2 separate regions of the Homo sapiens genome follow, and region 1 is linked to region 2. A link means that fine-mapping ties the variant in region 2 to the expression of a gene that starts in the linked region. Tissue or cell type: lymphoblastoid cells. Region 2 holds a variant in brackets; the other region holds the start of a gene. All regions are shown on one strand. Distances are from middle to middle.

Region 1 (5,247 bases), 44 kb before region 2:
AGGGAAAAAAAATAAATAATAACCTTGAGGTTTAACCTGAGGTATGTGTTGAATAAAAAGCCCAGCTTATCCATTTACAGTATATATACAGTGAGAAAAGTTGGAAGGTTTTCAGAATTCTGAATGTCACCTCATATCATGTGTTAGTGATCTTCATGATAGATGGCATAGATCTAAAAACCATTTTTTTTTGCTAAAATAACAATGTGTAGAAAAAAAAATAATCATTTTCCTAGCAAATGGAGAGAACTGTTCAAAAGATAAACCTCTCTGGTTTGACCTAAGGTGCAGGAATACAGTTGGCATTTAGGCTGACCCTTATATTGGTAATTTATGTAAAACAGTTTTTTCTTTCCAAGATTGCATAGTGTATAGTAGGAAAGTGAATAGACAAATTTGATCTGACCCATTTTTACATCACTGGGAAACTGTTTGTTTGTTTTTTAGAACACTGTTATTTTGAGACAGGGTCCTGCTGTGTCATGCAGGCTGGACTGCAGTGGTGCAATCATGGCTCACTGCAGCCTTGACCTCCTGGACTTACATGATCCTCCCAACTCAGCCTCCCGAGTAGCTGGGACCACAGGTAGGCCACCATGTCCAGCTAATTTTTTTTTGTATTTTCTGTAGAGATGGGGGTCGGGGGGGTGGGGGTCTTGCTGTGTTTCCTGGGTTGGTTTTGAACTTCTAGACTCAAGCAATCCTCCTGTCTCAGCCTCCCAAAGTGCTGGGATTACAGGCATGAGCCACCACGCCTGGCCTGCTAATAGTTCTTAAATGCAGCTCTTATCTTATTACTTCTGCAGTTAAAGGCCTGTTTAATGCTTGGCACCTGACTTTAAAGCTGACTATAATATAGCACCATCCCAAATTTCCTCAGGCTTGTTTCCTCATTGTTTCAAACATATATTGTTTCAAAGACACAATTTTTATGTGTGACTGTTTGCTTATATTGTTTAACTTCCTATTGTATTTGCTTTTAATAAAGTCTAATAGATGCTATGAAAACAGCCTTACAATCTCTTTTTCTTTTCATGAAGCTCACTGTCTACTACAATGCTTAGTGTGCCATTTAGGAGGACCTATGAGGAGGGAGTTTTGCTCAGGCTTCTCTGCTGCATAACCAGGAGGCTGATTTCTTACAGAAATTACCACTTGTAATTATATTTCCTTTGTTGCTTTCGCTGGCAGGAAACTCTAAGTTTATGAATCTCTTCTTTAATACTAAATAGATTCTTATAGCATGACTTTATTCGTATTTTTTCCACTGACCTAATTTATTGTTCTGGCCTTGTGGGAGAAGGGGCAGTGGTCCTCTTTGCCTTTTAAATTCAAATACTCATGTATTTTTGCAAACCATTTCAAATCTTTTTTTGGATCTAAATGGAATAGGAATAACAAATTTAAATTAATGCTCAACTTGCTTATTTATAGACTTTTTGCTCTTGTTTTCCTTTTTTCAAACCTCATCCAGCCCTCAAATCCAGCTTTTCCATGCACCCCTTCATTCTTCACTGATCTCCATTTTCTCGGAGCTCTTGTGTTAATATAATTTTGCATTTTACTAAGTATGATTTTGGATACCTCCTAGTGTTTCATGTGTATTAGTCCTGTAGTTCTGGGTTGTAGTTTTTTTAGTGGTAGGGACCATGGCTCATACTTTTCTGAATCTAGTAAAATAATATTGTATCAGAAATGCTTTCTGTTTACACTATAATTGTAACAAACATTGAATTTTTTAGCTTATTAACTCTCAGAGCACCCAGTACATCTTATTTAGAATTGCAGGAACCCATTTTTGTTTCTCTACAGCAGCCGAAGCTTGTTTCATAGATCTTGCAAGACTATTCAATCATTCAGTTAAAATTCCTTGACCTCCTGCTGGATGATGTTCGACAGGGCATTCATCTTCACGACACCCTTCGCGATGAATGGTAACATCTGGGCGGGTAGAGGTCCATTTCTACAGCAACCTGGGGGAGGAACAGGTAGGGTAGGTTTTGGTGTGGGTGCGATTCTTGGGGACTTCTTCAACAGGTAGGACATCAAGTCTGTAGCCAAAACAACACCTGGGCGAAGGGCAAATACCGGAGCCCCGACCGGCTCACGCCCAGTAATGCTTTCTCTGGGTTCTAACTACGTGATCAGGTCGTCTTGGTTTGCCAGGGAAAGCCCAGCGTCTTGACAACCCTGTCAGTTCCGAACAAACCGGGTCGATTGGTCACCGGGGCTCGAATCCCGACTGATATGACCCAGCGGGGACAGAGGATCCCCCTCAGTGCCACAAGTACATTCCCCACCGAGCAGCGCGCCTGCGCCAGTTGCTCTCATGCGTCAAGACTACAGGTCCCAGCAAGCATCGAGGCCCTCTCCAGGCCATTCTTCCGCCGGCGGGGAGCTCTCGTCGGCGTATTTGTTAGGTGTGGCGCGGAAGAGTCCGTGCGTGATGACGTCGACGCGGCGACGTCGAGCTCTTCCTCCTTTTCACGGCGTCTTGCATTACTATTGTGCGGCTGCAGGAGGTGTCGAGCGGCGTTATTTTTTTTTGCGGTTTGCCTTTTTTTTTCTTTTTTTTTTTTTTGGAACCGCGGTTGTTTAAAAGCCTGAGGGAACCTGGAGAGGGGCTCCCACTCCCTACCCTCTTTCCTCCGAGTTTGTGACTCCGAGATGGACAAAGTGTGTGCTGTTTTTGGAGGCTCCCGAGGCATTGGCAGAGCTGTGGCCCAGTTAATGGCCCGGAAAGGCTACCGACTGGCGGTCATTGCCAGAAACCTGGAAGGGGCCAAAGCCGCCGCCGGTGACCTCGGCGGTAGGTACCAAACTGGAGTTGTCCAGTTGTATGGCCGCGGTCCAGGCGCCTAAAGAAAATCTCCTTTGTAAAAAGAGCGGGTCTGGCCTTTAGGGCTCTAGGGTTACTCGATGTAGCCGCGTGCAGGCGCTCTCCCGTTCCAAGGGTAGAATGCGTCTCGTGCAGAAACCCGCGATCTCCCTATGCCTCGCAGAATGCCGGCCACGCAGCTTGCCGCCGAGGGCTGAACACTTGGGGTGTTCTTTGAGACCTCGTAGTCTTTTGAGGCCCCGCTATACGCACCCTCCGCCCTGCGGCTAGTGCTAACGCTGAGGAGCTTCCCTGTTGTGGGAGAGAGCCACGTAACAGTTTACTTTTAATGTAGGGAAAAGGGCGAGTTCTCGGCCCCCGGAGACAGGGCTGGGTCGAAAGGAGTTCAGGCAGGAAAGGTGGGAGTGCAGGTACCAACGGCTCCCTTCAGTTTTGCCCAAGGGCCGTGCCTTGGCCCTGCGCGAATGCACAAAGCAGTGTTTGATAGAGAAACCCTTTTGAGTACCAGCCAGTTTTGAGATATACCTGGTTTGCTTTAATGTTATTAAATTGTTTTGGTGAGTTTTGCAAATGGACAATTGAACTTTGTTCTGCCAAATTCTTTTTTATTGCATTTAAACTTCAGGGTTTTTTATTTCCGGCTTATTATGAATGGATTAGTCATTTTGTGAATATAACTCTTCATTGAGTTTAGGGAGAAATAGGACGTTAGATCCGAAGATGCTATTTGTTTAATCACCAGAATGGACAAAATTATACTTCATTTACTATCAGGGAGGCATGGGGAGAATAGAGGCCTAGGGGTGCGTCTTGTGGCTCTTACTGTTTTTGTGTATCTGGTTTTTTTTTTTTTTTTTTGAGAGGGCTTCCCATTATGTTGCCCGTGCTGGACCCCAACTCCTGATTTACTGGCTCTAGAGATCTTCTCGCCTCAGTCTCCCAAGGACCTGGGACTATAGACGCCAGGTGTGGCTGTTCATTTTTAAGTTAACATTATTGATCGGTTTGGTATCACCTGTTCAGTGCTGGTTGGGAGACTATTGGGCTCTCTAAAAGAAAAAAGATTCTGTAAGTTATAGGTCAGGGAGAGTGTCAGTGAATGCTTCTTGAAGCTCATATTCCTTACCATTCTAACAAAGGAGGGGAAGAGTGGTGACCCTTACTGTGTCACCCCAAGCCATCAGTGTTTGCTGGACTGGATTGAAGCCATTAGTTGGGCTTTCAAAGGTGGTTGTGGACACAAGTCTTCGGGTGAAAACCAAGAGTAAGAGAGACACAGGATGCTTTTGGGCCCTGCATTCCTTTGAATCGTGTTCCATGAGTGATTGGTTTTCATCTAGAAAGTATAATTCCCCGGGTCGCTTACTGTTTCCAAAGGCTTGATGGGGTAGTGTTGGTGTAAGCATATTTATCAAGGTCAGACAGAAAATAAAGAATTGTTTTAGCTTTTAAAAACAATCCTACATTTTAGAGTATTAAAATGGTAGATTACATAGGGAATGCTTTGTTTTCCTTTGAAGTGTAGTTTTTTTTTGGCATTTAACCATTTTTTAAAAGTGGTAAGTAACAGTTGCTTTTAGTAAAAAGTGTTTTTTTCCCCCCGTGGTTTGTAGTTTTAGCATTTTTATAGCTTCCTGTGTTGTCTCATCTCTCCTGATGGTCAGGTTTGAATAATAGTCGTTATAATATATGTGCCATAGTGCATCCGTAGCACTTAAAAAGAAGAAACCCAAGAGTTCCCGTTCAGGGCCAAAGAAACTAATTCAACAAAAACCTGACAGAATTAGACATAAATTTCAAAAAAGGAATATAAAACCCAGAAGACTGTCGAATTGGGTAGCATGAATTCAGTGTTAAAGCTATAAATATTAGATGAATCTTACAGAGCCTTTATAACTTGAAAAAGCCCTCCCCCCTTTGTTGATTAAAAAGAAAATTTTAAAATTAACTTTCTGTAGTAGTACTTTATTTCCTCTTTGTTCCCGCATCCCAGTTTCATTAGACCAACTCTATGAAAGCCAGGCCTCATGACATTACTTTTTTAATCTTTAGGTTCTAGATTAGCACAGGCCTGCCATCTTAGATAGATGCTTAACAAATGTGTATTGAGTAAATTTAAAATTTGAGTTATAAGTAATTCTTATTTAACTTTGTTGTGTAGGAGATCATTTGGCATTTAGCTGTGATGTTGCTAAAGAACATGATGTTCAAAATACATTTGAAGAGCTGGAGAAACATTTAGGTCGAGTAAATTTCTTGGTAAATGCAGCTGGTATTAACAGGTTGGTCACAGATTTAAATAAGTTTCTTATATATATATTTAAAACTTTTATTCCTAATATGTCTTTGATTGGTATAAGTTAATATGTTTATTTTGCTTCTAACTGGGAGAAAAAACTATTTTAAAA
Region 2 (5,247 bases):
GCCCTCTGTCACAGTATAGTCCAAAGGGACCTTGATTGCCTGGACGTTCAGTGAAACATCATGATCCACTCTACTGATGATAGCATGTTAGTCAGTAACACACTTTGGCAATGCCCTACAAACCTTTTCTCCCTTGCATTTTTATTACACTTGTTTGGTAAAACCATAATTTACATGATAAACTTTTGATTTTGTTCCTGTAGAAAATATAAGGGCTATGTTAGAAAGTCATAAAAAAGGGCAGTTTGGTTTTATGCTAAATTCACGATTACCAACCTCAAATGATGACTTTTATTTTCTCTAAGAAATTACTTGGCTGGCTTTTGGTGTGGCAAAGGAAAGGCACTAGTGTTTGAGGAGAGTAGAGGAGGTTTGAATTTGTCATTATGGAAAGTGAGAGAGTGAGGTGGTTAGAAGAGAGTATAAAGATCAGGTAGTGTTGAGGGCCGTCTTTGGAGATGAGCTACCACAACAGTTGAGGCATGGAGTATCCTATAATCATGTTTCCTCCCATACTCATTTTTGGAGATTTCCTGGCATTAATAATTGCTTTGTTTTATATTTGTGTAGTTTGAAATGTGTCTATTATTATTCTGTCTTCAAACTCAACAGCACTCTAGAATTTCTCTCAATACCATGGTCTATCAGTTTTTGTTTGTTTGAGATACACTTTTTAGTACCCCCTCTTGCCTACTCCCCATCCACCTGCTCCAGTACAGACTGAATGGCTTTTAGTGTGCTGCACAATTTTTAAAGTGGGACTTTCCTTCACCACCATCCTAGAAATTTCTTTTGGCTTATTTCTGTTTTCAATGACCTGTTTCCTAGGTAGCAGAGACTGCTGGTTGTTTTCCAAGGTCCATTATTCCTTTCCTTCATAATAATAGAACTCCCTGTTTTTTTAAAATTATACTTTAAGTTCTAGGGTACATGTGCACAATGTGCAGATTTGTTACATAGGTATACATGTGCCATGTTGGTTTGCTGGACGCATCAACTCGTCATTTACATTAGGTATTTCTCCTAATGCTATCCTTTCCCCAGCCCCCAACCCCCTGACAGGCCCCGATGTGTAATGTTCCCCGCCCTGTGTCCATGTATTCTCATTGTTCAACTCCCACCTATGAGTGAGAACATGCGGTGTTTGGTTTGCTGTCCTTGTAATAGTTTGCTTAGAATGATGGTTTCCAGCTTCATCAATGTCCCTGCAAAGGACATGAACTCATCCTTTTTTATGGCTGCATAGTATTACATGGTGTATATGTGCCACATTTTCTTAATCTACTCTATCATTGATGGACATTTGGGTTGGGTCCAAGTCTTTGCTACTGTGAACAGTGCCGCAATAAACATATGTGTGCATGTGTCTTTATAGTAGCGTGATTTTTTTTTTTTTTTAGATGGAGTTTTGCTCCATTGCCCAGGCTGGAGTGCAGTGGCGCAATCTGGACTCGCTGCAAGCTCGGCCTCCCGGGTTGCCATTCTCCTGCCTCAGCCTCCTGAGTAGCTGGGACTACAGGTACCTGCCACCACACCCGGCTAGTTTTTTGTATTTTTAGTAGGCACTGGGTTTCATCGTGTTAGCCAGGATGGTCTTGATCTCCTGACCTTGTGATCCGCCCGCCTCGGCCTCCCAAAGTGCTGGGATTACAGGCGTGAGCCACTGTGCCCGGCCCTGTAGTAGCATGATTTATAATCCTTTGGGTATAATGTAATGGGATTGCTGGGTCAAATGGAATTTCTGGTTCTAGATCCTTGAGTCGCCACATTGTCTTCCACAATGGTTGAAGGAATTTACACACCCACCAACAGTGTAAAAGAGTTCTTATTTTTCCACATCCTCTCCAGCATCTGTTTCCTGGCTTTTTTCTTTTTTTTTTTCTTTGAGACGGAGTCTCGCTCTGTCGTCCAGGCTGAAAGGCAGTGGTGCGATCTCGGCTCACTGCAAGCTCCACCTCCCGGGTTCACACCATTCTCCTGCCTCAGCCTCCCGAGTAGCTGGGACTACAGGCATCTGCCACCACGCCTGGCCTTTTTTTTTTTTTTTTTTTTTTTGTATTTTTAGTAGAGATGGGGTTTCACCTGTTAGCCAGGATGGTCTTGATCTCCTGACCTCGTGGTCCGCCCTCCTCGGCCTCCCAAAGTGCTAGGATTACAGTCGTGAGCCACGTTTCCTGACTTTTTAATGATCGCCATTCTAACTGGCATGAGATGGTATTTCATTGTGGTTTTGATTTGCATTTCTCTGATGACCAGTGATGATGAACATTTTTTTCGTATGTTTGTTGGCTGCATAAATGTCTTCTTTTGAGAAGTGTCTGTTAATATCCTTTGCCCACTTTCTGATATGGTTGTTTTTTTCTTCTAAATTTGTTTAAGTTCTTTGTAGATTCTGGA[T/C]ATTAGCCCTTTGTCAGATGGGTAGATTGCAGATATTTTCTCCCATTCTGTAGGTTGCCTGTTCACTCTGATGATAGTTTCTTTTGCTGTGCAGAAGCTCTTTAATTAGATCCCATTTGTCTATTTTGGCTTTTGTTGCCATTGCTTTTGGTGTTCCAGTCATGAATTCTTTGCCCATGTCTATGTCCTGAATGGTATTGCCTAGGTTTTCTTCTAGGGTTTTTATGGTGTTAGGTTTTATATTCAAGTCTTTAATCCATCTTGAGTTAATTTTTGTATACGGTGTAAGGAAAGGATCCAGTTTCAGCTTTCTACATATGGCTAGCCAGTTTTCCCAGCACAATTTATTAAATAGGGAATCCTTTCCTCGTTGCTTGTTTTTGTCAGGTTTGTCAAAGATCAGATGGTTGTAGATGTGTGGTGTTATTTCTGAGGCCTCTGTTCTGTTCCATTGGTCTATATATCTGTTTTGGTACCAGTACCATGCTGTTTTGGTTACTGTAGCCTTGTAGTATAGTTTGAAGTCAGGTAGTATGATGCCTCCAGCTTTGTTCTTTTTGCTTAGGATTGTCTTGGCTATGTGGGCTCTTTTTTGGTTCCATATGAAGTTTAAAGTAGTTTTTTCTAATTCTGTGAAGTAAGTCAGTGGTAGCTTGATGGGGATAGCATTAAATCTATAAATTACCTTGGGCAGTATGGCCATTTTCACGATATTGATTCTTCATGAGAATGGAATGTTTTTACATTTGTTTGTGTCCTCTTTTATTTTGTTGAGCAGTGGTTTGTAGTTCTCCTTGAAGAGGTCCTTCACGTTCATTGTAAGTTGTATTCCTAGGTATTTTATTCTCTTTGTAGTAATTGTGAATGGGAGTTCACTCATGATTTGGCTGTTTGTCTATTATTGGTGTATAGGAATGCTTATGATTTTTGCACATTGATTTTGTATCCTGAGACTTTGCTGAAGTTGCTGAAGTCAGCTTAAGGAGATTGGGGGCTGAGATGATGGGGTTTCTAAATATACAGTCATGTCATCTGCAAAGTTTTAGTTTGATACATGGATACCAAAACAAAAACAAAAAACATGTCCCAAACTGCCTTAAAGCTAAGTGTGGCTATGTGACTGAAAGCTGACCAATGAAATATAAGCCTTAGAGTCTGGTTCATGGTAACTCAAAGTGCTGAACACAGTGATCTACACATACTTGCACAATAAATATTTGTTGACTTACTAAATCAATGTTTCTTCAACCTTGGAGACCCTTCTTTCCTGACAGAGCTTTTCTTGCTTATTGAAATCTTAGTTTTCAAGGCTACTCTCAAATACCATATCATCCAAGAAGTTTTCCTTGTCCTCTCCTCCATTAGAGTTATTTCTTATATTAATGTTTATACTTCAGTTTGGGGAATTACAGCTGATACTCATTCTCTTGATAGTGACTTCTGTGTGGTTGTTATAGTGGCTGGGTTTCTTTGATATGAAGAGTATTGCATACTATTCTATGACATTTTTACCACTGCTTACCAAAGAGAGAAGGTGCATTGGCTTGTGGGGAGAAAAATACCTTTTTAGGCTTTACTTGTTTCCATTGGATTGTGTGTTTCGATTGAAGGTCGTCTTTATTTTTTATTTTCCTTGCCTTGCTCTGTGTCTGGCATTATGACATAAGAAAATCAATTGATTTTGACAAAACTTAGTGGCCTCAAGAAAGCTGAGGTTAAAGGGAAGAGAGTTTGAGAGAACATATGCATACTCAGACCTTGGTTTTCTACAACAGCCTAAATTTTAACCAGACAGTTGTCTAATCATGCAACACAAGCAAGGGGAGTGTAGTTGAATGATATTGTCAGAGTATTGTTCTGTGATGGCTCAGATGCCATTTCCACAGAAATATACCTGCTTGCTTGATCATGCTGGTCAGAGCAAAATTTCCCACGTGCTGGATGCCATTTATGCATTTAGCTTGATGGGTTACTATACTACTGATGATCTATATTTCCTGTCAGTTGCATTTTAGTTATTCCATCCTGGGAATACTGCCATTCATTGTGATTGGATTTGGATGTTCCCCAACTGTTCTTGGGCATGACATTAAAAAAAAAGGTTTTTGAACAACCAGCTAATCTTTATTGTGCATGGAGACACAGTAATTATACTCCCATAGGCGCTTTTTGTTTCTTTGGTCTTGGAGCATCCCTCAGCAACCTATTCTGTGGCTGATGGTACAGTAGCTATTAATAGTTTATACAGGAGGTTGGGCGCGGTGGCTCATGCCTCCCACCACTTTGGGAGGCTGAGGTGGGCAGATCACCAGAGGTAAGGAGTTCGAGACCAGCCTGGCCAACATGGTGAAACCCTGTCTCTCCTAAAAATACAAAAATAGCTGGGCATGGCGGTGGGCACCTGTAATCCCAGCTATTTGGGAGGCTGAGGTAGGAGAACTGCTTGAACCCAGTAGGCGAAGGTTGCAGTGAGCTGAGATCACACCATAGGACTCTAGGCTGGGTGACAAGAGTGAGACTCCATCTCAAAAAAAAAAAAAAAAAGATTTATACAGGAGTTTCTGAATTTGCTAATGTTCTTGGGAACTCAGGTGCTCTAATTGTCAATCCATTGTGGCATAAGACATCTGTGTTCTGTTATCTTCTCTGAATGAGTAAGTAACTCTGCTTTCAACAGTTACCCACCTTTTTGAAGAACATCTGACTAATTTATGAAGTATCTGGATTTTAAAAATTATTAGCATTTTAATTTTTCCTAGCTGAGGTGCTATGATAACATCAGGATAAAACTGGCTTTTGGCAGTCAGTTGTGCTGAAATCAACCACAATTTAAGTCAGGGCTTGACCATC

Which allele goes with the higher level. Positions count from the first base shown, and alleles are read on the strand shown. Sizes are in standard deviations (SD) of each study's normalised expression.
For the expression in lymphoblastoid cells of the gene that starts at base 2,502 in region 1, allele T in region 2 goes with a lower level than allele C (moderate effect, 0.71 SD a copy in GTEx).

What was found.
Region 1: CBR4 starts here. The variant in region 2 is fine-mapped to the expression of CBR4 in lymphoblastoid cells (GTEx, PIP 0.98).

What each region holds. Positions count from the first base shown.
Region 1 is chr4:169,007,510-169,012,756 of GRCh38, reverse strand. It overlaps CBR4 (carbonyl reductase 4), which reads left to right and starts at 2,502. Exons shown (of 5, transcript NM_032783.5): 1 at 2,502-2,809; 2 at 5,001-5,121. The coding sequence starts at 2,668. It overlaps CBR4-DT (CBR4 divergent transcript), which reads right to left and starts at 2,328. Exons shown (of 2, transcript NR_185919.1): 1 at 2,301-2,328; 2 at 1,697-1,973. RefSeq lists enhancers at 2,123-2,452, 2,552-3,501.
Region 2 is chr4:168,963,165-168,968,411 of GRCh38, reverse strand. LOC107986200 (a long non-coding RNA gene) reads left to right here and starts at 1,474. Exons shown (of 2, transcript XR_001741450.1): 1 at 1,474-1,519. It also overlaps a transcript of CBR4 not described here. The variant T/C (reference allele first, on the strand shown) is at 2,398.